Homo sapiens: one gene and its partners. The protein of the gene in region 4 purifies or fractionates together with the protein of the main gene of each other region. This does not show direct contact. Each region holds a gene or a part of one and is shown on either strand. Other genes may lie near its edges.

Region 1 (7,285 bases), on a different chromosome or scaffold from region 4:
TGCTGACAAAGCCAGTACTAGCACCCCACTGCTGCCACTGTCACTGCCCACACGTCAGCTAATACTTCAGCAGCACAGTGTCAGAACTAAGATTTATGATTCCCTGGCTTACTGACAAAAACAACCACAATTTGTCCAGCCCCCTCATGTGACCCATAAAAATGGTCCCTGGGCATTTTTGTAGAAGAAATGCCTGTATGGAGACCAGCGGGCTACTGATCCTGAGGTCTGGGTGCCTCAGGCTGGGCCTTCAGCCCCAGGCAACTGAAAGGATATGCATGCACTGAAACAGGACGCTCAGGAAGTTGTGCAGGGACACAATGAAGGTGTCAGCCCACTGTCGAGAAAAGTAGGTAGCAAAGGTGGGGTTGGTGTCCGGGGATGGCAGGAAGGGCAGGACAAACCAATCCTTCCACTCAGCCTGGTTCTGGAGTTCCGTGGCCTGCTTTGCAAAGAACTCCTGAGCCTTGTCATTTCTGTTTGTCTGCCAAGACACAAGGAGGTAGCAAGGAGGGAGGAGAGACAGAAATCCAGAGGTAAGACTCTTCATCATTGCACAGCAGACAACCTTTGACTATCAGCCTGCCAGGTAAGTGGCAAAATAAAATTCCATAATATAAAGGAAATCATCACTCTTTTCTCAAGGAACTTGTCATTTCAAAGCTGGTTTAAGCTGAAGTTCTAATGATAAATCCCATCCTAAAAATTAATCCCTAGCTGATGTTCAAATAACTAAGTGACTCATTCCTCCAGGTCAGCTATCATCTTTATTACTCAAACTTTAACCCAGCTACTTATATTCTTTAAAATACCACCTTTGTTTTAAGCTTACATGCTTAACATAAAAAAGGAAATAGGAATGGGGAAGACAAGTCAGATGATCTACAGATGACGACAAGGAAAAAAAAGAAGAAAAACAGTCAAAAATAATTGCACTGTAACTGCTGCACTCTTTCCCATAGTCACATACAGATTCCTCCCTAGGAACTGGAAGAAAATCTATTTTGGGATCAAAGAGCTCCTTCCACCAAGGGAAGCAGAACCCCTGAATCAACAGGCACCTGGATTGTGTAGACAAGATAAAATCGAAACAGGCTGGTTTTCAGCTTGTGGATTGTGGGTCTGTATATATCCTCCAAGCGGCTGAAGAGCCGACGCTCCAAGTAGCTCCAATAATCCCGAAGGGCAGCCAAGTCATACACCTGCATTAACTGCTGCAGCTGGTCCACAATCTTATCCACCTGGCGAGAAACATGGATGGAGAAGGTGGTAAGGGACAGAAGGGAATTCTCCCCTCCATGGAATAAAGCTTTTTCCTCTTGTCATGGCTTCTGGGTGTAAAAAAAAATTTGTAAGTTAGCAATCTATAAAATTTTCAAAACATACTAATGCAACGGTTTTTCAGTAATTTTCTGATGTTAGAGAAGTGGTTTGACCCTCTAGCAAGCACGGAAATTTCAGGTGTAAAAGGGCTCTGGCCCAGAACCTAAGAGATCTGGCTCCAGATCTTGGATCTGCCTCTGACTTACTTGATCAATTTGGCAGTGTCATCAGGCCAGGCACCGTGGCTCACGCCTGTAATCCCAGCATTTTGGGAGGCTGAGGTGGATGGATCACCTGAGGTCAGGAGTTCGAGACCAGCCTTGCCAACATGGTGAAACCCCGACTCTACTAAAAATACAAAAATTAGCTGGACGTGGTGGCACGCGCCTGTAATCCCAGCTACTCGGGAGGCTGAGGCAGGAGAATCGCTTGAACCCAGAAGGCAGAGGTTGCAGTGAGCTGAGATCGTGCCACTGCACTCCAGCCTAAGCGACAGAGTGAGACTTTCTGTCAAAAAAGAAAAAAAAATGGCAGTGTTGCTTAACTGTAGTTTCAGTTACCTCACATTTTTAAAAAAGGGGGTGGGGTGAAGAAGAGCTATGAGACAATCTCCACAATTCCCAGATCCCAAGGATCATGAGGAGGTGCATGGACTGACTCCTTCAAGTCATCAAAGTTCCACGAAGCCGTGGTAGCTGCTCAGAGTGTCAGCCAAGGAAGTCACCTTCTTGTGAGGAGCAATTACAGCAGAGTACAGAATCTGGAAAAGGGTTTGGATATCAATACCAATCCAATGCCCCTAGTTTATAGATCAGGCCACTGAAGCCCAGAGGGGTGAAATGATTTGCTTTTGCCACTAAGTAGCCACTAACTTTGGCCAGGCAGGAAACCAGATCTCCTAACTCCCCTCCAGTGCTCTTGCTGTTAGCTCACTGCCTCTCATTGAAGTCAGTACACACAAACATACAAATCACACACATATACATTCCAAGAACCTCGCAATGGAAAATCATTTTAGAGCAGGGGAAGTTTGGGTTTCTCTAATGTGCCATGAGGTCTTCCACAACTGCAGAAGCAAAATTGCCGATGAGTCCCTGACGAGGCCATTTTAAACAAACACCGCAGATACTTGAACGCAGCTAACGTTTTGGACTGCAGACTTCTTTGCTTCCACTGCCACTGGAAGCCAACACGAATATCTGTTGCCAAAACGCAACCATCTACCTAACCTCGGCTCCTAAAACCTCATCGCCATCCTGGCCAAGGAGGCTGGAGTGGAGACAGAACCCTAGACCAGGAGCCGGGGCATCGGGGCTCCAGCCTCGGCGATGCTCCTGACTCGGGGGGCGGCTTCAGGCAGGTCCTGTCCGTCTGAGGGTCTCAGTTCCTCATCCGTCAAGCTGGGGTCGGACGCGCTGAGGTCTCCGGCGCCCCGGCGCGAGTGACAGCGCCGCTCTCGCCCCGGAGGCAGTGCTGGGGGGAAGCCCGCTCCCCGGCTCCCTCGGGCCGCCTCTGCCCGCGCCGCTCCCGCCGGCCTCTCACCCGGAACCCCTTCTCCTTGTCCGCCTTGATCTCGGCGTCCAGCTGCCGCAGTGTGTGCGTGAACCCGCGGAAGAGCAGGTACTCCCGGACCAGCTCGTCAGTGCGCTCCACGGCCTCCGCCATCGCAGCGCTAGCGTCTTTAGGGGTGGTGCGGTGAGGGACGGAGGGGCGGGGCCTGGGAGAAATGGGGCGGGGCCGGACGCGGGCGCCGAGCACGTCACGCCGCGACAGGCCTACCAGCCCGCACGCACTGGGCGACCAGCCTGAGGCCCCGCCCCTCGGCCGGCTCCCCGCCCGAGGCCCCGCCCCTGAGCCAGCCCCAGCCCGCCTGGCCGCTCGAGTCACCCTTACCCCTCCCGAGGAGTGGCGAGGGGAGGTCCTGGCGGCGCCGGCGGCGGCTTTGTCTGAATTACTGAAAGTGGCGGCTGCCACCCACGTCAAACAAGACTGGATCTTAAGAACATCCCAGGTAGTCCCGAGGCGGGCAGGGGGTGCGGCGCCCTGTTGGTTGGCGTTACATCGCAGAGCTCCCGGTCCCCTGCCCTCCTCCTACACGGAGGAAGCTGGAGCCCTAAGAGCAGAGTGACCTGCGTGAAGCCACAACACGCGTGTCCTCAGAGAGCGCTAACTCCCCCAAATCTCTGCTTTCATTAGTAAGACGAATTGGCTACACAGCAAGATAACCAAGATGCACTGCTAGGATAGGCAAATTTCATAGCAGTGTATGTACGCTATAGTCCTGGTTTCTTGTGAAAAAAAAATTAGGTATGTATGTGTGTACATTTTTTAAATTCAGGAAGATTATACACCAAGTTCCTATGCAGTCGGGTCTCTGCATCCTCGGGTTCCGCATTCACGGATTCAACCAACGAGGATTGAAAATATTTTTTCCAAAGTTTTAAAAATAAAAAATAGCCGGGCGCAGTGGCTCACACTTGTAATCCTAACATTTTGGGAGGCCAGGGTAGGCGGATCTCTTGGCCCCAGGAGTTGGAGACCAGCCTGGACAACATGACGAAACCACATCTCCACAAAAAAAAAAAAAAAAAAAAAATGCGGAGCGCAGTGGCTCACGCCTGCAATCCCAGCACTTTGGGAGGCCGAGGTGGGCGGATCACCTGAGGTCGGGAGTTTGAGACCAGCCTGACCAACATGGAGAAACCCCGTCTCTACTAAAAATACAAGATTAGCCGGGCGTTGTGGCGCATGCCTGTAATCCCAGCTACTCGGGAGGCTGAAGCAGGAGAATCGCTTGAACCCAGAAGGTGGAGGTTGCAGTGAGCCGAAATCGCGCCATTGCATACCAGCCTGGGCAACAAGAGCGAAACTCTGTCTCAAAAAAAAAAAAAAAAAAAAATTAGCCGGGCGTGGTGGTGCTGCCTGTGGTCCCAGCTACTTGGGAGGCTGAGGCAGGAGGATCACTTGAGCCCAGGAGGTCGAGGCTGCAGTGAGCTGTGATTGTACCACTGCACTCCAGCCTGGGTGACAGAGCAGGACACCGTCTCAGTTTAAAAAAGAATACAATTTTTAAAAACACAAATTAAATATAGCATAACAACAATTTACATAACATGTACAATGTATTCAGTATTATAAGCAATGTAGAGATTATTTAAAGTATACAGGAGGAAGTGTATAGGTTAGATGCAAATACTAGGCCTTTTTACATCAGGGCATCCATGGATTTTGGTCTTCTAGGGAGGGTCCTAAAACCAACCCCCTGCAGATACCAAGTGACAATTGGAGTGGTTTTATCTGAGAGGTGAGACTATGAAGGACTTCTTGTTTTTTACTTTCTTTTTATTGTTGAAGTTTTTACAAGGTGCACGTATTTTTGTAAGTAGGAAAATAGCCAATATCTTTGAGACTTGCTTCTGCAGAATGGTGACAATAGGCCGGGCGCGGTGGCTCACGCCTGTAATCCCAGCACTTTGGGAGGCGGAGGCAGGCGGATCACAAGGTCAGGAGATCGAGACCATCCTGGCTAACACGGTGAAATCCCGTCTCTACTAAAAATACAAAAAATTAGCCGGGCGTGGTGGCGGGCGCCTGTAGTCCCAGCTACTCGGGGGGGCTGAGGCAGGAGAATGGCGTAAGCCCGGGAGGCGGAGCTTGCAGTGAGCCGAGATCGCGCCACTTCACTCCAGCCTGGTCGACAGAGCGAGACTCCGTCTCAAAAAAAAAAAAATGGTGACAATAACACCCACCTTGCACAGTAGTAATGAAGATTTAATAAGACAGTGTATGTAAAACGCTTAGCACAGTGAATGGCCTATTGGTAAAATGCATGGAGTGTTCCCTTCTCCTTCCCTCGAATGGTATGACTTTTCGTGTTTGTCAAAATACAACTCAGAATCATTGCTGCCCCTCTGCTCAGACCCTCCACTCCTACTCTATGGAAATTCAGCTCCAAAAGGGCTCTGATCTACACTAGAGAAAGCCAAAAAGATAGCACAGGGCAAGCCACAGCAGGACGAGACAGACCTTGTTCTGCCCTCTTTGTTTGCCCTACCTGTCTCCACAAGTGTACCCTCCAGGCAGCTAAACTTGCCTCAAGGGCAGGAAAGGAGAGTCACCACTGTGACTACTGGGAGACCAACTCCTACTTTGAGATCTCAGATCATCAAAGTGAACTTGGAAAATTTGGACAAGTTGCAACCACCAAAGCTTCCACCTACAGGAAAGTTGTGAAGTAGATTTCCCTAAGGGCACCTGAAGTCTGCAACCATAGTTCTCACCTCCCCCACCTCCATCTGCCCTGACACTTCCCAGACCAGAGCCTGTAAAACCAGCTAAGATTAGTTTTCTGATCAATGAAAGGCAGCTCCTCAGAGCTTAAGTACAAGCCGTTTGTTCTACAGGAATGTCTTCTCCAAGATACCCACAGGGATAGCTGCCTTTCCTCCTTCACGCATTTGCTCAAATGTCACTGTCTTAGTCCTTTGGGGCTGCAATTTTTTTTTTTTTTAGAAATGCCATAAACTGGGTGGCTTATAAGCAACAGAAACTTATTTCTCATAGTTCTGGAGGGTGGAAAGTCCAAAATCAAGACACTAGCAGATTCATTGTCTGCTGGATGCCCACTGTCTGGTTCATAGATAGTGCCAAGTTACATGCTCAGTAGAGAGCATCCATCGCCATAGCCTTTGGTAGATAAATCTTTTCTTACTGTAGTCAGTTCCTTAAAAAGTCATGAGCACCTCTGAAAACTGGAAATGGCCCACAATGATCCATCCAGTAATTCACAGGTTTCCTATTGGTAGCCCTCATGCTTGTTGTAGGAGGCAGCCTATGTATATGTTAATCTTTCGTTCACTGAAAATCAGTGACACACAATAGATACCCTTTTTCACTTCTCAAATTAGTAATTTTTAAAATGTATTGCCCACTGTTGGTGAACATAAAATGAAAGGGGCATTGTCATTAAGCTTCAGAAGGAGCTACTTTTCTAGGAGTCAATTTATAGATTATCAAAGCTTCCAAAATGTTTCTACTCTTTAGCCCAGTGATCCCACTTAATTTCTTTAATTTCCCTTAAAAAAATAATTTTAAAAATAAGCTGAAAGAAAAAAAAAAAGGCTGGGCACAGTGACTCACACCTGTAATCCTAGCACTTTGGGAGGCCCAAGTGGCAGAATCGATTGAGGCCAGAAGTTATGACCAGCCTGAGCAACATAGGGAGACCCCGTCTCTATTTTTTTAAAAAAGAAAGTAAATTAATTTAAACATTAAAAATAAGATTTATGCAGAATGGGGTTTTTTTTAATAAAAGTGCAACTTATCTTTAATAATGGAAGTTATTTACAATAGTGAAAGGTATAAGTATTTAGAGGCTACAGTGAGTTACCCTCCAAGATCTTGGGAATGAAGAAATTGTACTTCCCACTGAGAGTTAAACGGCAAAATCAACCTAAGATGGTTTAGAGTCCAAGGATGCAAAATCAGTGGAAAGAGAGAGAAAAGATATTAGGCTCACTGGCCTTGGTTGAGGACATTCACTTCCAAAATAAATATTATGTCAGTCGGAAGAGGTTTTAAACACAGGCACCCAGAAACCAGAGAGTGCCATGGGCAGGGCCCATGCTCATTTGCAACACAGCCGGCACTTGTCCTATGTTCTGACCTATGGCAAGGCCATCCCCAAAATGAGAAGGTGGCACTAGACCATCCCAAAATTGGGCCCCGATAGGCATCCCACTCCGCTTTTCCTGGTACAAAGCTCACAAAAAGACCATTTGTGTCCTCAGCATTTGACTACATGGAAACATAGCATTCCAGTGTCTTCCTCCTGGTAAACTAAAAGGCAGTTTTTGATTACAATAGTCTTCCAACATAGGTGGAAAGGATATCATTTATGCCAGTGTTACCACGAATAGTCCCTGTGTGACAGTTATATGTCTCATTCAGATTTACAAAGTGA
Region 2 (7,025 bases), on a different chromosome or scaffold from region 4:
AACAAAGCAAAGTAAGCATCTGCGTACCTATAGCTGGGACCTATCCCTATAGGTTCTTAAAGCTGGGACATACCCAGTGGTCTTGACCAGCATATGTATCACTCAAAGTGAGAGTCGGGAGTCTGTTGGGGTATCTGTGACTTGACCAAAATGGCGTGCTTAGAGTTGGGTTTAGGATTATTGTGGGTTTAGGATTTAAGATGATTGTTCAGCCACTTCTCTTAGAAGGGGAAGGCAGATGCTGGCCTCTGTGTGGGGTCCCCATGCCCGGTTGAGCTCCTTCCTTCCCTCTTCATCAGTGTTGTTACCTTCCACACAGATTCATGGAGACCATGAGCCCAGATTTAGGCTCAGGAAAGCACGGGAAGCAGAATTCCCCCCAGGCTCCTCTGAGGAGCCTCTGCTGCAGTTCCCCTCAGGCCTCAGAGGCAGCCCTGTCCTCCAGGTGGGCCTGGGGCTTGCTTCTGCCACTCACTGTGGGTCGATGTCTTTTCTAGGGGGCCGAGGCGTCAGCGTGGGCCCCATCCTCAGCAGCAGTGCCTCGGATATCTTCTGCGACAATGAGAATGGGCCTAACTTCCTTTTCCACAACCGGGGCGATGGCACCTTTGTGGACGCTGCGGCCAGTGCTGGTGAGTGGAGGCAGCCATGCCCTGTGCACCCTGACCCCTCACCCCAGACCCACAGAGGACTCCAGACTGCCCTGCCCCCTCCAGGATAGTCTCTTCTGGCTGAGGGAGAGCAGGGCAAGTCATCGTCTGCACCACACAGAGAAACGCTGCTTGTCACTTCCTATTCCTTAGCTCCCTTGGCTCCAGCCACAGGGAGTGTTTGCTGCTGGGGAAAGGGGTCTGAAACTCCTGCCAATTGCCATCTTCCAGTACCTGAGATTGCCCGCGACCCTCCAAGTCCTGCTTGTGTCTCTCAGCATCAACCTATCCTCCAAGCTGCCTCTCCCCACCTTGGCCCCCTCCCACATTTATCTTCAACATTCAGTTCAATACAGTGAGCATTCATGGAGCCCCTACTAAGTGTCAGGTTGGCACTGGGAACCAGGGATGCCCACTTGAATCAGGCTAAGACCACCCTACACACAGAAAAGGCAATGACTTTCTAGAAACAGATGTAGACAAAAATATCCGGCTGTAATAAGAAGCAGGATAAAACCCACACAAAATAGTGCCCCAGGCCCCCAGCTGTGCTCCTCCTCCTTCCTCTGCACTCATCCCCCACCCACCTCAGGGCCTTTGCACTTGCCATGGCCTCTGCCTGGACTGCCCTCCCCCTTCTCTACCTGCAGAACGTCGTTTAGCCTTCATCGTTCACCTCAAATATCACCTCTGCAGAGATTTTCCTCACTCCCTGTGCCACCTAGCAGAAACTGGTCCTTCCTCCTCCTGCTGCCCGTGGCATGCACGTCTTCTTCAGGCTCCACATTGCCATCATGGTTTGTCTATGAGCTTTACAAGGACCGGGTCACGGTTCTATTCATTCTTGACGCAAGGCTTGGCCTCCAGTGCCCACCGGTAAATTCTGCTGAATGACAGAGTGGACACTTCCTGCGAGTTTTCGGATGTATGATTGCATCCCAGGCACCCCTGACCATTTCCCCCGACCTTGCCAATGAATGGGAGGTTTGATTTCACCTCCTTCTTGGAGGCATGGGGAAGAGCTCTGGCCTGCAGGAGTGGTGAGTGGGATCTAGACACAGAGATCAAGGGTCCTGCAAGCTCTGGCTGTTGCCAGCAGTTCACATCGAATCCCTGCACGTGTGCCAGTCTGTTCTCTTGGATTCTTGGACTTACGAGTACCTACCACCCCAGCATTCTGCCCAGGAGCTCCACTGTGGGGACTTACTGGCCCAGAATGCACACCCACCCCCAGCTTTTTGCCATTCAGCTCCCTACCTTGCCTTACCTCTTATCCTTCTCTGGCAAGGCAGAAGTTGGACTCCCCTGGCCTGTCCTCCCACCTGGCTCACCCCTCCTAGTGCTATCCTTTGGCAGCAAATTTTCTCATTGCTGAAAAATCATAAAGCAAAGGGGAGGGAATAGTGGAGAAAACCTAGAGGATTTGATAAGGTGTTAAAGAGATGGAAGCAGAGGTGAGCGAACAAGTTGGAGTGGGAGAAGGTATCAGGCGGGAGGAGAGAGGCAAGGTGCTAGGCCCGTAATTGAAAGTCAGAATGATTGCAGGGGTTTAACAAGACATGTCAAGAGGGCATTCATCACCCAAACAGATGCTGCTGTGAAATGCAGCCTGGCACCGATTATTCCCGTGAAAGGGAACCAGCTCCTTGTCAAGGTGCCTCATAGATAGGAGAGAAATGGGCCAACGCAGAAGGCCACCGACATTTGGGCCGAGGAGTTTGGCAGAGAATTAATGGAGTATTAATCCTAGGGATTGGAGGCTGCCCCTAGTCCTCTGCGAACCCTCTTTCTCAAGTCTCACTGCCTCTTCTTCCCACACCTCCCCCAGCTCCTTCTCTCCCCCAGGAGGACACTCAGCCTCCAGGGTTCTCAGGGGGCCCCACCCTGCCTTCTGGCAAGAGCTCCCTGTGTCCTGGGGTCTCTGATCCCCACTGCCTATTACATTGTCCTGTGGTCTGCCATCCCAGAGAGCCTGATGACCCACAGCTATTTGTCCTCTGAAAGAGTCAACGTGGGTGGGTGCTTAGAGTCGCATTCACCTCTGTCTCTCAAGCTATGCACTGGCCAGTGAGCAGCTAGGAGGTCAGCCCATCGCTCTGGGCAAAGCCACCCTCTCTCCTCCCCCAGCACCCACTCCGTGGATAGTATAAGCAGGTGGCATTGGGCACAGAGGCTTCGCTTTCCAGGTCTCACCAGGCATGCTGTGGGCTTCTCTGTCGTGGCTGTAGTATTTCCTCTGCTGTCACCCACGTCCCCGGTTTGCCTTCTGTCATGTTATTTATGTCTGTGCACTCATTCAGCAAGTATTTACTGAAAACTACCAGGCAACCACAGGCCCTGAGATAGATGCTGCGTGTACCCAGGTGAACCAAGAAGAGAGTCTTGACCTCATGGAACGTCAGGGATAGTGGGAAAACCGGACCCTAACAAGTCAACCACAAAGGAACGTAACCGCACATTGTGATCAACATGTTGGAGGAGAAGACTAAGAGGCTGTCAGGGAGATTGACAGGGTGGGCAAGATGAGCTGTCTCAGATGCGTGGTCAGGGAGGGCTTCCCGGAGGAAGTGACATTGTGGCTGAGAGCAGAATAACCAGGAGCTGGGTAACCTAGAGCTAGAGGGAGAGCATCCCAGGTAGAGACCTGCTTGAGCAAAGGCCCAGGAGCTGGAAAGATGGGGAGAGTGGGACCAGATCAAGACCAGATAAGGCGGACAGGACCATGGTCAGGCAGAACCCTGTGCTCCCCAGGCAGGAATTAGAACTTTCCCTAAAAGGATTGGAGGGCATGATCAGCTTAAGCAAAAGAGTGGCATGATCAGCTTAATGTCTTCCAGTGGCAGTGTTAGGGGTGGCCGGGAAGAGCCTTTGGTCCTCCAGAATTTCCCCCAGTCTCCCTCCCCCAACCCATGCCACCCCCCAAACAGGGTAAAAATAATATGCATGCTGGGCAAACACAGCTTGAACACAAGTCTTGGGTCTTCTTTTCAAGCACATGACTGTCCCACTTCCTGCCCCTATAGAGAGCTTCTGAGACTGCAGCTATGTCTCCCGTATCTCCTCCCGGGAACAAGATGAGAGTCACCCTCCCTAGTTGCTTGTCACAGAGCTAGAGCAGGGTGAGTGTTTGTGGAGTGTGCAGGGGATGCCGCCCTGAGAGTTCCTGCCTCTCCTCCCCAGGTGTGGACGACCCCCACCAGCATGGGCGAGGTGTCGCCCTGGCTGACTTCAACCGTGATGGCAAAGTGGACATCGTCTATGGCAACTGGAATGGCCCCCACCGCCTCTATCTGCAAATGAGCACCCATGGGAAGGTCCGCTTCCGGGTAAGAAGGGGCCTCACCCCAGGAGTTCAAGACCAGCCTGTCCAACATGGCAAAACCCTGTCTCTACTAAAAATACCAAAAATTGGCCAGGTGTGGTGGTGCGTGCCTATAATCCCAGCTACTCCGGTAGCTGAGGCACAGGAATCTTGAGCCCAGGAGGCAGAGGTTACAGTGAGCTGAGATCGTGCTACTGCACTCCAGCCTGAGTGACAGAGCGAGACTCCATCTCAAATAAAAAAATAAATAAATAAAATAAAATAAAAAGAAAGGGCCTCTCCCTCACTCCTCCCTACAGCACCACTGCAGGGGTGCCCCGGCATGCCATGGAGCTGCCTCGCTCCTCCCACCAGGCTGAGCAGGGCTCAAGGCTCTCAGGGCCCAGAGTGGGGGTGGGGTGACAAGGAAGGTTACACCAGGGGACGAGGGACTACAGCTGGGCTGCTGTAGGAGCTCTGGATCCAAGAGTAGGAAGAACCAGGTCAGCAGAGGTGGGAGAGCAGCCTCCGAGGTGGGCCGGAGTCCTGGGAGGTGGACTGCACTCTCTGGATCCAGGCCATTTTTTCTGGTGGCTCCTGGAAAGGATCCAGCAGCTAGAGCAGAGAGTGTTTGTGGAGTGTGCAGGGGATACAGGATGGCATCCCCTGCACACTCCACAAAAGCCAGGCCTCAGCTTTTTAGACCTTTTCAGACTGACGTTCAAACCAAGGGCAAAGTGGTGGAGAGAATGGAAGATTGAAGCCACGGAGTTCCCAACAGCTGCCCCTAAAGACAAACAGCAGATGGCAGGCAAGGTGGCCTCAGAGCCCTCTCTGTGCCCCCTCCCTGAGCTGTTGATAGACCGATGCCAAGAATTCTTCAAAAGGGCTGTTAGTGACAGTGATGGAGGTGCCAACAGCATGAGGGGCATGGGTTTGGAACTTTCTCAGGGAGGGCAACAGAGGGCATGGGCTGGTTGAAGCTGATCTCAGGGATCCAGGACTGTTCTGCAGATACCTAGGTCTGCCAAAAACCCCTGAGGAAATGGGAAAGTTCCAGGGTTTTCCTGAGGCTTGAGGATCCCAGGGAAGTCCCCAGGGACCTCATGTCTGTGTAACCAAGAAGAGGCCACCCCTACCAAGTCCCTTCCCTGTAAGCAGCCACCTTGGGACGCCCAGGCCCAGCCACTCCCTCCCTGCTAAGGCTTGAGACTCAGGCTCCCTGGGCTGGGAAGAGGCATGCCCTGAGCCCAGGACAGCTCGTCCTGGGATCTTGGACGATTTCCACCTTTATTCTACTCTTGTTCTCACCCAGCTTCTCAACAGGGATGATCTTGCTGCCCTCCCTCTGGGACATTCAACAATGTCTGGGGACATTTGGGTTTGTCACAGCTGGGGAAGGGAGGGCTCCTGGCATCTAGTATGCAGAGCCCAGGGATAGGGCTGAACACCCTACAGTGCACAAAGCAGCCCCACAACAAAGGATTATCCAGTCCCAAACGCCAACGCACTGAGGGTGAGGAACCCTGTTAATTCTTCCGAAGGCCCCTCCCCAGAGCTCTCAGGAGCAATAATAATACTAATAATACATAAATGCCCTATTTATCAAGTGCCTTCCATGTGTCACGAACTGTGCTAAGCTTAACATACATTATCTCGGAAGCTCAGGCATCGAATAGGGCAACCCCAAGGGGGCTATGGGAGGTTTCCATTTTTATAGGATCAATAGAATCATAACGGCTAGAGATCCTGAGGTCTTTTTGCTCCCTGGCTCTTAAGGCCCAGCTCAACCCACCCAGACCAGCTGGCCAGGCTTATTCAACCTCATTACTCCTCTGATGGAGACAGCCTCTTTCCCTGGCCTCCCCAGAGCAGGCAGCTCGACCGCTGACCCAGCCTGCTCATCCCTGTGGCTGCCAAAGAGGGTCTGCAGCAGGAGGCCGAGAGCAGGCCCAAGTCGGGTAGAGGATGCTCCCAGAGACACCACCTGTACCTTTCTCAGCCCTCTCCACGTGGGCCCTGGGACTTAGACATGTCCCCAAGGTCTTTAGGGGAAAAACCCACCTATGATGAGGATATTACGCTCAGAAATAGAAGATTGCCCTTCCCAGCTCTCCTTCTATTTCAGAGGCAGAAACACACCTGGGACCCTTTGCCTGGTCCCCCAAGGCCCTCCCAGTACTTTGGAGTCCCAGCTGGGCTATCCTGGGCCTGGGGTCTCCCCATTAGTCCTGGACAGGTGTAGCTGATACCGCAACCCCCTCAAAGCAAATGTCTCAAAAAATAAAAATAAAAAGACTCCCAAGAAACAACGTAAGGTAGTAGAGGCAGCCAAATCCACAGCTACAGGTAACCTCTTTCACCTTCCCTGAGGCAGGTGGTGGGTAAGGCAGGACAGGCTGCCAGCGAGCTATGTCATGCCCACTCTGTGCCAGGCATTTTACATGCAATCCTCACAACCCAGGCAGCTATTACTATTCCCACATTACTGATGGGGAAGGTGAGATCCAAGGGGGTTAGTAACTTGCCTAAGATCACACAGCTAGTCAGTGGTGGAGCCTGGATTTAGATGCACAGAGATTTCCGGTGCCCACCCAGCTTCTGACTCAGCACAGAGGAGGAAGGGTGCCTAGGAGAAAGGGCACAGAGTCCGGAATCAGAAGCCCTGGCCTCCCCACTCAGTAGCTGTGACATCGCAGTTCCCCTCCTTCTCCAGGACTCAGTTACCTCACCCGTCAAATGGGAAGGCTAATGTCTGTACTGCCTCAAGGGATGGACAGAAGGGATGGACAGGTGTGATCCAGACTAGGGATCGGCTAAGCACTTCACTGGTGTCTAGCACGACTGTTATTCTTCCCTCCTTCTTCTCGTACAAGCAGCCTGAGGTCTGTGTGGTCCTAAAGGCAGCCCCCAGGTCCTTTGCGGGAGGCAGGAGAGGAGCTTTTGGGTTGGACTGTCTCTTATTTTTAATTGCCCCCACACTCCATAGAGGAGAGCTGGCCTCCCGCCCCAGCCCACTCTCCTGCCACTGACCCCCAGCCTTGTTTCCTCCAGGACATCGCCTCACCCAAGTT
Region 3 (7,025 bases), on a different chromosome or scaffold from region 4:
AAAGTGGGAGGATCACTTGAGGCCAGGAGCTAGATACCAGCCTGGGCAACATAGTGAAACCCCATGTCTACAAAAAATTTTAAAAATTAGCTGGGTGCAATGGCATACACCTGTAGTCAATGCTAGCTACTTGGGAGGCTGAGGTGGGAGGATCACTTGAGCCCAGGAGTTTAAGGCTGCAGGGAGCTATGATTGCACCATGCTCTGCACAACAGAGTGAGATCCTGTCTCTAAAAAAAAGAAAAAATGAATTCCAGCTTCTTCTGCCTGGGCCCAGGTCTAGAAATATAAAAGTTACCCATTCCAGTTCCCTCAACATTACAGAAAAGTCAGGGGCGTTGTCTGCAAAGCTGGGCAAGTCAAGCTGTGACCAGGTGTTGGCTGCCTTGGCCTAAGACATCTGGGTTGTGTAAACTCATTTCTTTGTTTGTATATTTTCTTGCTTGGGGTTTGTTTTGTTCTATTTTCCCTTTCATTTCCTAGAAAAGCATCTTCTGGAAAGTTCTAGCCCTTTCCCAGCTACATAAAGAGGGAAGGGCCCTGGCCGCTGCACGCATCACCCACGCAGGAGGCCCCTAGAGGCTAGGGCTTACTCTGCAGGGGCAGCTCCCCAGAAACTGGGGACCTGGCTGGAGGGGTTGAGTGACCACAGGTGTCAATTGCTTTTTGTCTTCACACACAGAAAAGAGGTGGGACTAATAAATGGGCTGCTATTCCCCAGAAATCAAAGTTCACCCCCTCCTCGCTGCTGAAACACAGCTGGATTAGGGCCTTCTGTCACTTCTTCATCTCTGTCATCTTTGAGCCTTTTTGGCTGGGTCTGTCTCTGGCAAGGGTCAAAAATCTTCCTCCTCTACAGATTTTTTGGGAGGTGTTCAACCTGATTGACATCATTAGGAAGGAAGGCATGCCAGGTCAGGGATGCACAGCCTTTGCCATTTCCAAACTTACAGCTGCCTCTTTTGTGCTGTCATTGACGTCTGGTGACTCATCGCGTCTGTCCCATCTACTCCTGCTAATTGACATCCTCATTAGCAGCCACGCTGCCCCCATCTCAGAGCAGCCATCAGAATGAGCCCTGTCTCCATCTGCCTCTTCCCAGCCTTGCCAGTTATTGACATCTGCACTGAGCCTTTGAGCTTTGCCTAGTCTTTGGTGGACCTCGGCCATGATGGGCCAGTCTGGGTATAAACACCATGAAATAGAACCATCATGACGACAGATTTGTACAGACCAGGCTCTAGTGCTGGCTCTTGCTAACCAGCTGGGAGATCTTGGTCCAAGCTCCTTAGCCTTGGAGCCTCCATTTCTCCATCTGTAAAATGGAGATGATAATGCCAACCCTGCCCACACTGGGTTGTGGTGAGGAACAAATGGGCTGTGTGGAAGAAGCCCTGTACCCCACAGAGCACTCATAGACACAGATGACTGATCCCCTCTCTTCCCTACAGCTGCCCTGCACCACATTCCTTCCACCGGCTAGATGGGGGTGCTCCCAAGGTTCCGCTTTCCTGTTAACACATTGGAGCAAGGTTTTGTCTTATTACAGTCTACCTTCCAGTGACCACATCTCTGTCCATAGCTTCAACAAAACGTAGCTCCATGGAGCCCAAGTCCTTCCCCTAAGTGCCAGTGCCACGTGTCAGATGGCTTGCTTCACAGCTCCATCTGGATTTTTTCCCTTGTGTCTCAAATGCATGTCTGAAAATTCAGTATCTTTCCATCTGGCAGACTGTGAACTTTGCATTAAGTCCTTTCCCCAGGGGCCAGGCTCTTTCCCCACCCCCCACCTCCACCTCTCTTTACTGAGGCATCATCAGGCATCTTCCTCATGCACCCTTCATCCTCTCCCTGCCCACCAGCCCTGTCCAGTGGGCTATGCTAGCTGGTGGCCAAAGGCTGCTGACTTGTCTCCTGACCACAGCATTCCCTCATAGCTCGTCCTTTCTGCTTCGAGAGATACAACTGGTTTGAGGGTTGCTTTCTTACTTAGAAACCCTCGGGAGCTCTCCGTCACTTCCTGAATACAGTCCCGATTTCTTAGGTATTTCAAGCCTTTCCCAAAGTGATCCTGGCCAACTCACTCAGCCTTTTCTTTCATGTCTTCTCCTTTCTGTGTATCCTGCCTTCCAGTTAGATGGAAATGTGCTCCATTTCTTGGGCCACATCTTTCTTTGCCTTGCCTCCAGTTCCCCATCCCGGGACGTCTGTTGAAATCTTACTCTCCTCTGAGTGCAAGCTCACATGCAGCCCACGCTAAGAAGCTGCCGTGATGGTTCCTGGCAGCAGGGCTGAACACACAGAAGAGCATGTCACGCCAGCTGAGTGGCCCCAAGCATGCAGATGGCAGTGGGGAGCAGGGAGGCTGTGTTCTTATCTTCTCCACAGGCCGAGACCAGGTGTGTCACCTCATTTGACTTCACAAATTCTAACTCCAGAAAGTGTTTGTATGTAGTTTTTCAAAAATTTTTGCCTCATTAACTAATAGATGCCCCCAAAATGGCACAAAAGTGCTACAGAAACTTGGAGAATTAAGAGCTCACCCCAAGCGAAGGTGGTTTGCAAAGGCTGCCCAGAGACGTGAGGTTTGATTTGCCTTAAGGGATGGGTGAGTCTGGAGGGTCGCCAGGAGGCGGGGGATGGGCAGCCTCAGTAAGGGGACTGGAAGGCACCAAGTGGGGGCCAGGAGAGAACAGCGAGTGTTCCAGAAGTGTGGGCAGAAATAGAGCACCTCCTAGTCCTAGTAACAAAAATAGCTAATACATTTTGTGTTATTGATTATCTTGTATTATTTCATTGAATCTTCTCAACAACCACATGAGGTGGCTGCAGATGAGGAAAGTGAGACGCAGAGACAACTGTGACTCATTCAAGGAAATGCGCGACCCCATGGGGAGTTGGGACTCAAACCCAGGCATCCTGAGTCCATGCTTCCAGCCACTGCATGTTGCTGCTGCACTCAGCAAGATGTCTGAGAAGGCAGACAGTCCAACTTCCTTCCTGTGCAGAAATCTCAGACTGTCTTATTCCTGGGAGAATAAAAAATCTAGACCCTAACAGGTGTACAATGAAGAGTTTTGTAAGAAAGAAAGATTCAAAAATGAAATAGGTAACATATGGGCATTGAATGTGGAGCTGGATTTTAGCCTATATTCAATGGAATTGGAAGGTTTTGTGCAGGGAAGTGATGTAATGAGCGAGGAGGACGTGTAAGATTAATCTGTGGTGAATGTGCACTGACACTGGGGAGATCAATTAGGCAGAAAAAAAAAGGACTTTTAAAGAAGACAAATATTACTGGAACAGGCCGCTGGAGCAGTCTGGGAAATGAGCAGAATGACTTTTATAGAGCGTTCCAGGGCTTCAAGTAAATTCGAATTCAAATTTATTCTTCCTGTATTATTTGCTGCATCCTAAAATGGGCTAGGAAAAAAAAAACAGTGAATTTAGTGAGCATTTATTGTGTCCTTGCTGTATGTGAGGCCTTGTGCTAGGGACTTAAAACAATTGGAAAGATATCCAGGTGCCCCTAGGAATGGAGAGGCCAGAGGCACAGTGGCTCCCATCACCAGGAAGACTTGGTAGGAAGATGACAGTTACTGAGCTCCAGTTTTGTGCTAAAACCTCTCATCTCATTTAGTTCTCTAAAGAGCCCTTTGATGGTCACATCTTCCAGCAAGGGACCTCAGTGAGGGTGAGTGACTTGCCCAAGGTCACATGACTCATAAGTGGAAGCTGTCTTTGCAATCAATTTATTGTCCACTGAAACGGTTATTTATTTTCCTCTCTCTCTGTGTCCTTATGTATTATTCAGTAAAGTTCAGCTTCCTGGGTTTCTTCTCTCTGCTTCTGTAACTACTGCTGGCTTTTTTTACTTACTTTTCCCTCGCTTCTATGCCACTCTGCTTTGTGGAACAACCTTTGTGTGTCGGGCCATTCTAGCTGTGTTCTCTGGTAAGAACAGATTCAAAGTCCTGGCTGGGCATGCTGGCTCATGCCTGTAATTCCAGTGCTTTGGGAGGTTGAAGTGGGAGGATCGCTTGAGCCCAGGAGTTGGAAGCCAGCCTGGGCAACACAGCAAGACCTCATCTCTACCAAAAAGAAAAATATACTAGCCGGACATACTGCCACATGTCTGTGGTCCCAGCTAATCAGGAGGCTGACAGCGGAGGATTGCTTGAGCCCAGGAGTTAGAGGGTGCAGTGAGCTATGATCATGCCACTGCAGAGGGAGTTTTAGGGGATTCCTTATATGAGTCAGTCTTAGTATTTAGCTACATCGTCGGTTACCCAGCTACTAAAATACTCTTTCTGATTCAGGGATAGTGGACATGTGGACCCCTGGAGCCAGAATATGTTCAGAATTCTGAGATGATGATCCAGCCAGGCTGTGGGTAATGGTCACCAACAGGAGGAAACACTGGGGAGACACAGCACGGCCTGGAAGGAGGAGAGTTAGGCAGGTGCCTCGTTTCTCATGTTGTGTTATGAGAACCACACGGCCTCCCTGGCCACATATAAGCTGTGAGGTTTGGAAACGTCACACTCAAGCCTAGGTGAGCAAACCGTGAGGTATCCAGGAAGGTGTCTAAGGACGTTGTACAGAGCTGAATTGGTGTATGAAAGCCACTTATTTCCATAGCCTAGGAAAGAGTACAACCCGAGTTGACATGAACAGAGAAATAGGCGTAACACATCCTTGGCAGTGGCCCCTCTCTGAGAGTAATGTGAACTTGATGGCAAGGCCCGGCTTCTTCTGCAACCCTCAGAACGTTGGTTTTGCTCTGGGGTGGTTCTTCCTGCAGGGAGGCAGAGGGAGCAGGCGTGCGGAGTGCAGCACTCGGCCCAGCTGCCTGACTTCTCCAGCGCCAGGTCATGATTCCCGGCTGGCTTCGCTGGCCTTGTTTCTCAGCAGCCCTGATGCACATCAGTCTGTGGGGCTTTGTCCCATATGTCTTTCTGGTGGGACAGCAGCTGGACAGATGGCGTGTGGACTAGAGGGTGTCTGTGGGGCACAGGCTCCACACGGCTCTTCTCCGCTTCCTCCCAGGTGCTGGCCGGGATGAATGTCTACTCCTCTGAATTTGAAAACATCAAGGAGGAGTACAGCGTGCGCGGCTTCCCCACCATCTGCTATTTTGAGTACGTCCCCCACTTTCCTTCTAAAGCTCACCTCCCTCCCTGGTGATTGACCATAATCTCAGGGTGGCATTTGCATCCGTGACTGAGCCCACGTTGTTTCTCCACGTTTCACAGGAAAGGACGGTTCTTGTTCCAGTATGACAACTATGGGTCCACAGCTGAGGACATTGTGGAGTGGCTGAAGAAGTAAGTGGGGTGTGTGTGTGTCAGTGGGCGTGGACCCAGAGGGCGGGGCATCTGCCGGGCCTGAGGGTCGCAGGGCTCTGGCTGGAGGTTGGGGGAAAGAATGAGGAAGGGAATTGTGGTACTGCCTACACAGCTGTCTCTGGCTTGAGTCTAGGCCACTGTGGGGATTGTGGGAATTTAGGTTGCAGGAGCCATGAGGATTTGGTGTGACTTTGGCCTGTGATGATCAGACCTGCCTGGGTGTTGGGTGTGGAGTCTGTCTCCCCTACCTCCCGTCTCCACGGGTTGGAACTGGGGAGGGGCTGCCTAAGCCTGTCAGCTCTTCTGGAATAGTCAGGGCCTTTCTGAATTCTTCCCACATTTCACATCAAGTTTCTCCTCAACACATCTATCTGATGGATAGAGGTATTTCTCACCCAGGCTACCAGGTTTGAGAGAGGTTCCACTGCAGGTCTCTCTGAAAATAGAATTGTCAGTTGAACACTTATTTCAAACACAGCACTGTCTTAGGTGCTGTGAAGGTACTAAGAAATATTCTAATGCCTTAGGTTTGCTGAGTGCTTTACTGTTCAACCCCCACAGGCATTGCTTCATTGCAACCTGTGATCCCTGTTTTATAACATGATTAGATCCTTGTAATGCCAAACCCCACCACCCTGTTGGCTCCTGCCTCCTTACCTGGAGCCTCCACTGTGCTAGGCCTGCTGCTTTGTCCTGCCAGATCACCCCATTCCCACTTCTCACCAGCACTTCCACGACAGGCTCACGATGTCCCCTTCTGGAAGCCTCCCCAGGCCACCCTCGCTGAGCACGCACCCTACTCAGGCTGCGCTCTGTGTGTCACGAGTTTGGCACTTACCAGCCACTGCTGCTTCATGAGTATTTGTGCATATGTGCTGGAGTAACAACAGCCAACATCTTTTGGGCTCTCCTTTGTGGCTGACATTGTTCTAAGCACTTTACATGGATTCTCATTTAATCCTCACAACAGCACTGTAAGGAAGATGTTACCGTTCTCTTCATTTTATGAATGAGGTCCCTGAGGCACAGTAAAGGGGTGGTGCCGGTAAGCAGTAGCAGGGCCCTGATGGGTCCCCGCCACCAACCCAGCTCCCTGCAGCCCCGACAGTCCAACTTAGCCTCCTCAAGTTCTGCTCGGAGCCCCTCCCCTCAGCTGCCGGCACAGTGGACATTTATTGACATCATTACCTTAGGAACACAGTGTGCAAACCCCAGGGTTAAAGAATTAGTTATCCAAGATATGGAGGTTGAAAATGTGTATTTTCAAAATGGGAAAGAAGGGTGGGTTTTGTACCAGGAAAAAAATGCACATGAAACTAACTGTTAGATTTCTAAAGGTGGAGAGTCTCCATCTTCTGTTCTGCCTACTCTCGGGAGATAAGGCACAAGTGCTAGCACATGTTTGCATCATGTCTTTTATTTCTTGGAAGCATTCTCACATCTCTGTCCCCATCGGCTACCTCATTTCCAGCCCCTGCCTGGGAAGGCTGCTGCCCATTATCATGTGTTCATTGTCTTAACCTGGGCCTTTGCTTTCCTGTTTTCCTTTTTCATTTGATAATAAGCGTGTCCTCTCCTCTATCCAGACACATCTCATTCTGCTTTGGGAGAAGGTCTCAACAAATAGCAATCTCATTTGTCACTAGAGCATAAAATCTGTCTGCTTCCCTTCCCTTC
Region 4 (6,917 bases):
ATTTTACTGCTTGCACCCAATAGCACTAATTGATTCAGTTTAGCTCTCAGAACTGAAGGAAAGGCTAAAAGAACACAGCTTGGAAAGAATGGTAAAGTCAGAACTGAGTTCTTCCCAGGACACCTCTGAGTTAGCTCCATAAATTTTCAGGTCTTTTATCATTCATTGCTCAAGATTACAGTTCTAGGAACAGTATTTGATTGGCCACTCTGCCTGGGGGTAGGGCAGACACATTAATTGACAGTCTCCCTGGCCCCACCTGTCTTGGTCTGGAGGAAGTTATTTCCTCCAAAGCAAACTCAGGGTGATTTATCAGAAAAAGGACAAATGAATGCTAGGTGACAAAACAAAATAGTCAATATATCCAAAGAGAGAGGTTTCCATGGAATGAAAGGAAGTTTGACTGAGTCCAAAAGTCTAAAAGGAGAGGCCCATTGCATGGTTAAAGGCACCTTTTTTGTTCCTGGAAACTTCTTAAATCTTCACCGTTAACTTGTTTACAGTCATTTTAGAGTGGGCATGTCTACAGCTAATTGACATCATCTACCACTATAAACTTTTCCTTCTTTCCTTTCTGCTTCTTTTCTTCCTCCTCTTCCCTGATATATATTTTTTTACACTCATGAAGTCAAGTCCAAAACTTTGGATGCATCATCTACGTTAACCTCAGATAGATCTGTGTGAATGTGTATAATATTGAAATAACTGGGACAACACAAGTAATTTGGCAAGAGTCTTCCCTCTGATTTACTGGCTGTGTTTCCTCCAGCAAGTCACTTTGCTTAGCTGAATCTCAGTTTCTTAACGTGTAAAATGGGAGTAATAATACTTAATCCATAAGATTGCTAAATACATATAAGCTATCTTTCACCAAACACTTACTATGTGCCCACTCCAGAGGTCACAAATTTAAATGTCCTCCTGGGGTCAGGTGAGCACTGTGAATGGAACTAGTTGCAGAGAGGGAGGATGGTGGTGGTGGGGATTATGGGAAACTGGAGGGAATGCTTCCCTCATAGAAAAAGAGTAGCTGTACTTAGGTTCTGGTTTTCAAAGTATGGTCCCTAGCCCTGCAGCATTGGCATCACCTGGAAACCTGTTAGAAATGCAAATTCTCAGGTTCCAGACCTACTAATCAAAACTCTGGGGATGGGGATCCTGCAATCTGTATTTTAATAAGCCTTCCAAGTGATTCTGATGCATGCTTAGGCTGGGCACTGTGGCTCACACCTGTAATCCCAGCACTTTGAGAGGCCAAGGCGGGCAGATCACCTGAGGTCAGGAGTTCGAGACCAACCTGGCCAACATGGTGAAACCCCGTCCCTACTAAAAATACAAAAATTAGCCGGGTGTAGTGGCGCCTGTAATCGCAGCTACTTGGGAGACTGAGGCAGGAGAATCGCTTGAACCCAGGAGGCAGGGGAAGGGAAGGGAAGGGGAGGAGATGGGAGGGGAGGGGAGGGGAGGGAAGCCTGGGGGACAGAGCAAAACTCAGTCTCAAAAAAACAAAAACAACAAAAAAAATGATTCTGACGCATGCTCAATTTTGAGACCTGCTGCTCTAGCTGATGGTTGTTATATCTAAGATTGCAGGACTGTGTTGCCAGATCTTTTACTTTTTCCAAGAGAAGCTAGAGGTTTATTTTTATATGAAATTCGCTACTTTTAAATCTTGGCAACTAATTTAAAAATTTAAAACATACTGTGTAGTTAATAATGTATGTGCTCTAGCCAGATTTGCAACCTCTGATTTATGCTTTTTCCTTTAACCCTTATAATAATCTTATAAAACCCTTATAATAATCATCCAAGACTGTTAGGATGATACACAGTTTATGCAGGAAGAAGATGCAGGCCCAAAACATGAAGTGTTTCTCTAAGTCACATAGCCAGAAAGTGGCCATGGATGCATTGTCCCTGATTGGGCATGGATGCATTTGGTTCTAAAGCCTCTGCCCTTTTAAATGATGTAAAGAGAATATCTATAACTATACCTAGCACGGAACTTGGCACCACAAAAGCTAAACATCTGATGCCATTGACTGATGAAAATTCCTTCCCCATCCTTCTGCCTGGCCCTGCCACTCTCCCTCAGTCTGTATTCCTGTAAGAGAGAGCCAATCAATAGGGTGCTCATAAGGGCCTGGGAGGAGCAAGGCTGGGCAGTTTCCTGGCCCAGGGAGCTGAATAGGGCCCGGAAGAAAGCTGTTGGCAGCAGTGCCTGGGGCTGAATGTACAGTAGCCAGCTGGGTCCACGGGCTAAAAACTGGCTGCTCACCCCAGTGTTCTCTTTGTGCCCTAGACTGGGTTTCACTAGCCTGTTATGGGCTGTGTTCCCACCTGGCTCCTGCCCTCATTGTTGACTGAGCTCAGAGTAAATAGCCCTGGCCCCTCCCAATAACGTCCCCAGTCCCCAAGTTGAGCATGAGAAGCTGGGGGAGGTGTTCTCAGCATCCATTTTGGGGACAGTGGCCAGATGTACTCACATCACCAAACCCTACTCACCTGTCACTATCATCCCAGTGTTCACTGCCCCAGGGCCCCTCTAGCCTCCAGCAGCAAAGACCTCCTGGGGCTTCTAGAACCTCAGATCATTGGAGCAGGAAGCACTTCTTGTCTAACTCCCTGGGTAACTCTGTTTTGGCACTTAACCCCCTGGATTCTAAAGCTTCATTTATACTTATTGGTCTCCTTCGTCACAGGAGACACTTATCTGTGGAGCACTCATGGCCATGTATCCAGTACCTATCATGGGTCAGGCCTGGAGTCCCTGTGTCAATCAGTGTGGATCTACTCTCAATGCTCCCAGTGAGTACATGGTTGTTCCGTGGCAGGAACGTTGCATTTGTGTTCTCACTGAAGTCCCATATAGGTGTCATTTTCACTGATGATGTGGCAGCTCAGATCCAGGAAAGGATTCATTCCAGGGCCCTCAGGTGGGAAGTGGTGGAGGTGGGAGTCAGACCCCAGACCCTGTCACCCCTTCAAGACCAGTGCTGGAGGGCCCCTTTTGACGACTTTCTCTTCACCAAGCGTCTTGCCCTGCATATGTCACACAGTAGGCACCCAGTGAATATTTACGACGGAATGGAAAAAACAAGGGCCTGGAGGGAGAGACCTGGGTTCAAAACCTTATTTGTACAGCTTTGCAGGGGACCTTGTGGTGGAGGTGCGGTCCTAAATCCCTAAACACTCAGTTCCTTTGTCATATACAGCTGATAACAGTAACTCCCCGGTCAGAGGACCGGCGACAATTCCTTGAGACAAGGAGCACAGAGCCTGGCACAGTCAGCCCTGATCAGGGGCCGGTAGGACAAAGAGAGGGAGACAGAAACACACACCCAAACGGCTTGAGACTGCTAGGTGCTTCACCTTCCTGGGCCTGTTTCTGATGAGGAGGGTTTGTTTATTAATAATAAGTGCTATTTCTGTAGCCCCTACTATGTGCTCTGTATCACTACCCTAGCCCTCCATCAAGAGGGATCTGCCCTCTCATCTGGCTGACCCCAAATCGAACCCTTTAACCCGCATGCTCTACTGCCTCCCTGCGGGCCCTGCCTTATCCTCCTCAACCGCCCACTGGGGACACTCTGGAGAAACCTCGGAGTCTTGGAATAGAAACCCAGGAGCCCTGAGCCTTGGCCCTCAGGCCCCAGGAGGGAGGTCAGGAGGGAGGCGTGGACAAGGGTCCGGCCGTAGCTGGTCCCGTCCTGGAAGCTGCTTAAGTTCCTGGTTCCCACCGGGGCCAAGAGTGATACCTGATCCTGGGGGATTGTGAAATGACCTCATGTGGCAGCCCGCCCGCGGTGCCCGCAAAGCCCTCCACCCTCCCCTTCCCCGCTCGGCTCCACCCCTACCCCACGCCCCCTCCCGCGCGCGCGGTTAAATCCCCGCACCTGAGCATCGGCTCACACCTGCACCCCGCCCGGGCATAGCACCATGCCTGCTTGTCGCCTAGGCCCGCTAGCCGCCGCCCTCCTCCTCAGCCTGCTGCTGTTCGGCTTCACCCTAGTCTCAGGTGAGTGGGGCGGGGAGAGGCCCGGCGCCTAGAGGGGCCGAGCCACGAGCGCCAGGATGGAGCCAGGCGGAGGCGTAGCCTCTGGAGGCTGGGGAAGTGGGAATTCCGGGGGCGGAAGTGGCGGGGACCCTTGGAGCCTAGGGTGTGGGGTCCAATGTGCTGGAGGTGGAGAGACCACTGATGGCTGCAATTTGGGAGGATTCTGTGCTGAACGCGGACACTCCGTGGCTGCAGTGGGCTGGGGGTGGGGGCTGCTCTGCCTCGACCTCGGAAGCTCCGAGACGCTCAGCTGTGCGGCGTCCCCTAGGGCTGAGATCTGAGGGCCCCGACGCCAAGGGTTAGGGAGCTCTCGTACTCCCAGGGGTCAGGGACTCCTGGTCTGGAAGAAGGAGTCTCTGGGGGCTGTAAGGGGACTCCTAGGGCCAGAGACTGAGAATTCCTTGGGGTTAAGGTTTGGAGCAGGAGGTGGGCATCCTCTGGGGCTGGCGCTACGCCCCACCCTCGACTGTCCCGGGCCTCCCCTCCCAGGCACAGGAGCAGAGAAGACTGGCGTGTGCCCCGAGCTCCAGGCTGACCAGAACTGCACGCAAGAGTGCGTCTCGGACAGCGAATGCGCCGACAACCTCAAGTGCTGCAGCGCGGGCTGTGCCACCTTCTGCTCTCTGCCCAATGGTAACCCCACGGCGGCCGAGCGGGAACGGGGCGGGGCCGCGCTGGGCTGGGAGGAGGTGGGAGGGCCCGGGTTCCGGGAACAGGGGCGCCCCCGGACCCGGGGACCCCCGGGAAAGTCAAGGCGGTTGAAACCAGATCCGTCAGTCCTCTCCCTCGCACGGCCCAGGGGTAGACAAAGGCGTCGTTGAAACGCAGCCAAGGGGGGGTCCCCACCCCTAGCTGGGATTCGAGTCTCTGGTGCATGACGGGCTTCCGGGCACGCACAGCCGGGACATTGTTCCCCGCGGCCTGGGGACCCGGGGCCGCAGTTTCCTTCTCGAACCGGCCGAAGCCTGCCCTGCGGGAAAGCCCGGAGCCTGGGGCGCTCACCTCTCCTCTTGGAGTCCCTCCCTGGGGGCCTCCCCCAGCCCTGGGGAAAGACTGGGAGAGCCTGGCCTGGCAAGATTTTCCCCAATTCCTCTGTCCAGGCGGAAAGGAACTTTACAGATTTAGGAAAATGCCCCGCTCATCTTAAAGATGTGTAAGGGAGCATCGGTGAGAAAAAAATGTTCTTGCCCAAGGTCACACCGCCATCCCATGGCTGCTGGAGTCATAGTGAGGGTTCAGCTTTTGCCTTTCAGGCCAACTGGCTGAGTGATTCGAAGAAAGTGAGGAATCCTCCCTGGACACTGTATCGCCCTTCGTCGTCTTTCAGTCAATCTCTTCCACTCTAAGGATTGAGTGAGCGCGAGCTGGGGACTCTCTCAAAGGTGCTTGCTGGAGCTGCAGTCTCCACCAGGCTATCAGAACAGGGGGTGGCTTAAACAGCATGGAATCTCAGCTTTCCGTTCTCCAGAGGAAAATGCTGAGGATTAGAGGCAGGGATAGGACCTGGAGAGAACCAAGGTACTGTAATGATGTTCTTTATCCAGAATACAGCCCCTGTGACTTTTCCTCTCTGTTATTTCCTTGAAGATGCCAGCACAGGCTGGGAAGGTTTGTAATACGGTGACCCAAGACACCGATCAGCAGGGAGGTGGTAAGTGGAGGGGGACTGGCAGCCCACCAAGGGCAGCTTCAAGGTCATGAGTCCCCTCCTCTGGGCCAGGGAGAGGAGGACCAGAAGGAGAGAGGAAGATTTGGAGAGAAAGCAGGCAGCAGCCAGATGAGAGAGGTGGAGGAGCAAAGGAGGGAGTCTTTGCTGTTTGATGGATGAAGAATTTGTTCCCTTATCTCAGATGGACAGACTGAGGCAGGAAGAGGGACAAGGTCAGATGGCCTCCTGAGCCAGGGAGGCAGCCTGGAGGTTTGAATCCTAGTTCTGCCATTTTCTAGTTATGTGATCCTGAGCATGTTGTTTACCTCTCTGAGCCTCTGCTCTAAGATGGGAATAATTCCAAACTCTATAGGATTGGCATGAGGACTAAATGAAATAATGCATCTAAAGTGTCTATTAGTGAGAAGATACTCCATACACAGTGGCTTGTTTTGATCATAAATGGTTCCCTATTTATTTCCAGGGCAGCCCAATATTACAGGTTCCTACTCCTTTCAAGAGAATGAATTTCTTTGTATTAGGAAGTCAAGACTGTTGGCAACTTAACAACATTTTTTTTTGTATTTATGCTTTAAGTTCTGGGGTACACGTGCAGAACGTGCAGGTTTGTTACATAGGTATACATGTGCCATGGTGGTTTGCTTCACCCATCAACCCGTCATCTACATTAGGTGTTTCTCCTAATGCTATGCCTCCCCTAATTCCCAACCCCCCGACAGGCCCTGGTGTGTGATGTTCCCCTCCCTGTGTCCATGTGTTCTCATTGTTCAACTCCTACTTATGAGTGAGAACATGCGGTATTTGGTTTTCTGTTCTTGTGTTAGTTTGCTGAGAATGATGGTTTCCAGCTTCATCCATGTCTCTGCAAAGGACATGAACTCATCATTTGTTATGGCTGCATAGTATTCCATGGTGTAGACGTGCCACATTTCCTTTATCCAGTCCATCACTGATGGGCATTTGGGTTGGTTCCAAGTCTTTGCTATTGTGAACAGTGCTGCAATAAACCTATGTGTGCATGTGTCTTGGGCATTTGCGTTGGTTCCAAGTCTTTGCTATTGTGAACAGTGCTGCAATAAACCTATGTGTGCATGTGTCTTTATTGTAGAATGATTTATAATCCTTTGGGTATATACCCAGTAATGGGATTGCTGGGTCAAATGGTATTTCTTGTTCTAGATCCTTGAGGAA

Evidence for each region.
Region 1: the proteins of WFDC2 (region 4) and WDR91 purify together in Homo sapiens (affinity purification with mass spectrometry; 2 studies listed by BioGRID and IntAct, with this or other methods). This does not show direct contact.
Region 2: the proteins of WFDC2 (region 4) and CRTAC1 purify together in Homo sapiens (affinity purification with mass spectrometry; 2 studies listed by BioGRID and IntAct, with this or other methods). This does not show direct contact.
Region 3: the proteins of WFDC2 (region 4) and PDIA5 purify together in Homo sapiens (affinity purification with mass spectrometry; 2 studies listed by BioGRID and IntAct, with this or other methods). This does not show direct contact.

Annotation. Positions count from the first base shown.
Region 1 is NC_000007.14:135,208,515-135,215,799, forward strand, and holds the start of WDR91 (WD repeat-containing protein 91), read right to left. Parts: upstream 3,013-7,285; 5' UTR 2,989-3,012; coding exon 2,866-2,988; intron 1,242-2,865; coding exon 1,062-1,241; intron 485-1,061; coding exon 277-484; intron 1-276.
Region 2 is NC_000010.11:97,901,620-97,908,644, reverse strand, and holds part of CRTAC1 (cartilage acidic protein 1 isoform A precursor), read left to right. Parts: intron 1-497; coding exon 498-632; intron 633-3,830; coding exon 3,831-3,976; intron 3,977-7,005; coding exon 7,006-7,025.
Region 3 is NC_000003.12:123,119,017-123,126,041, forward strand, and holds part of PDIA5 (protein disulfide-isomerase A5 precursor), read left to right. Parts: intron 1-5,049; coding exon 5,050-5,141; intron 5,142-5,255; coding exon 5,256-5,327; intron 5,328-7,025.
Region 4 is NC_000020.11:45,465,843-45,472,759, forward strand, and holds the start of WFDC2 (WAP four-disulfide core domain protein 2 precursor), read left to right. Parts: upstream 1-3,910; 5' UTR 3,911-3,939; coding exon 3,940-4,018; intron 4,019-4,546; coding exon 4,547-4,690; intron 4,691-6,917.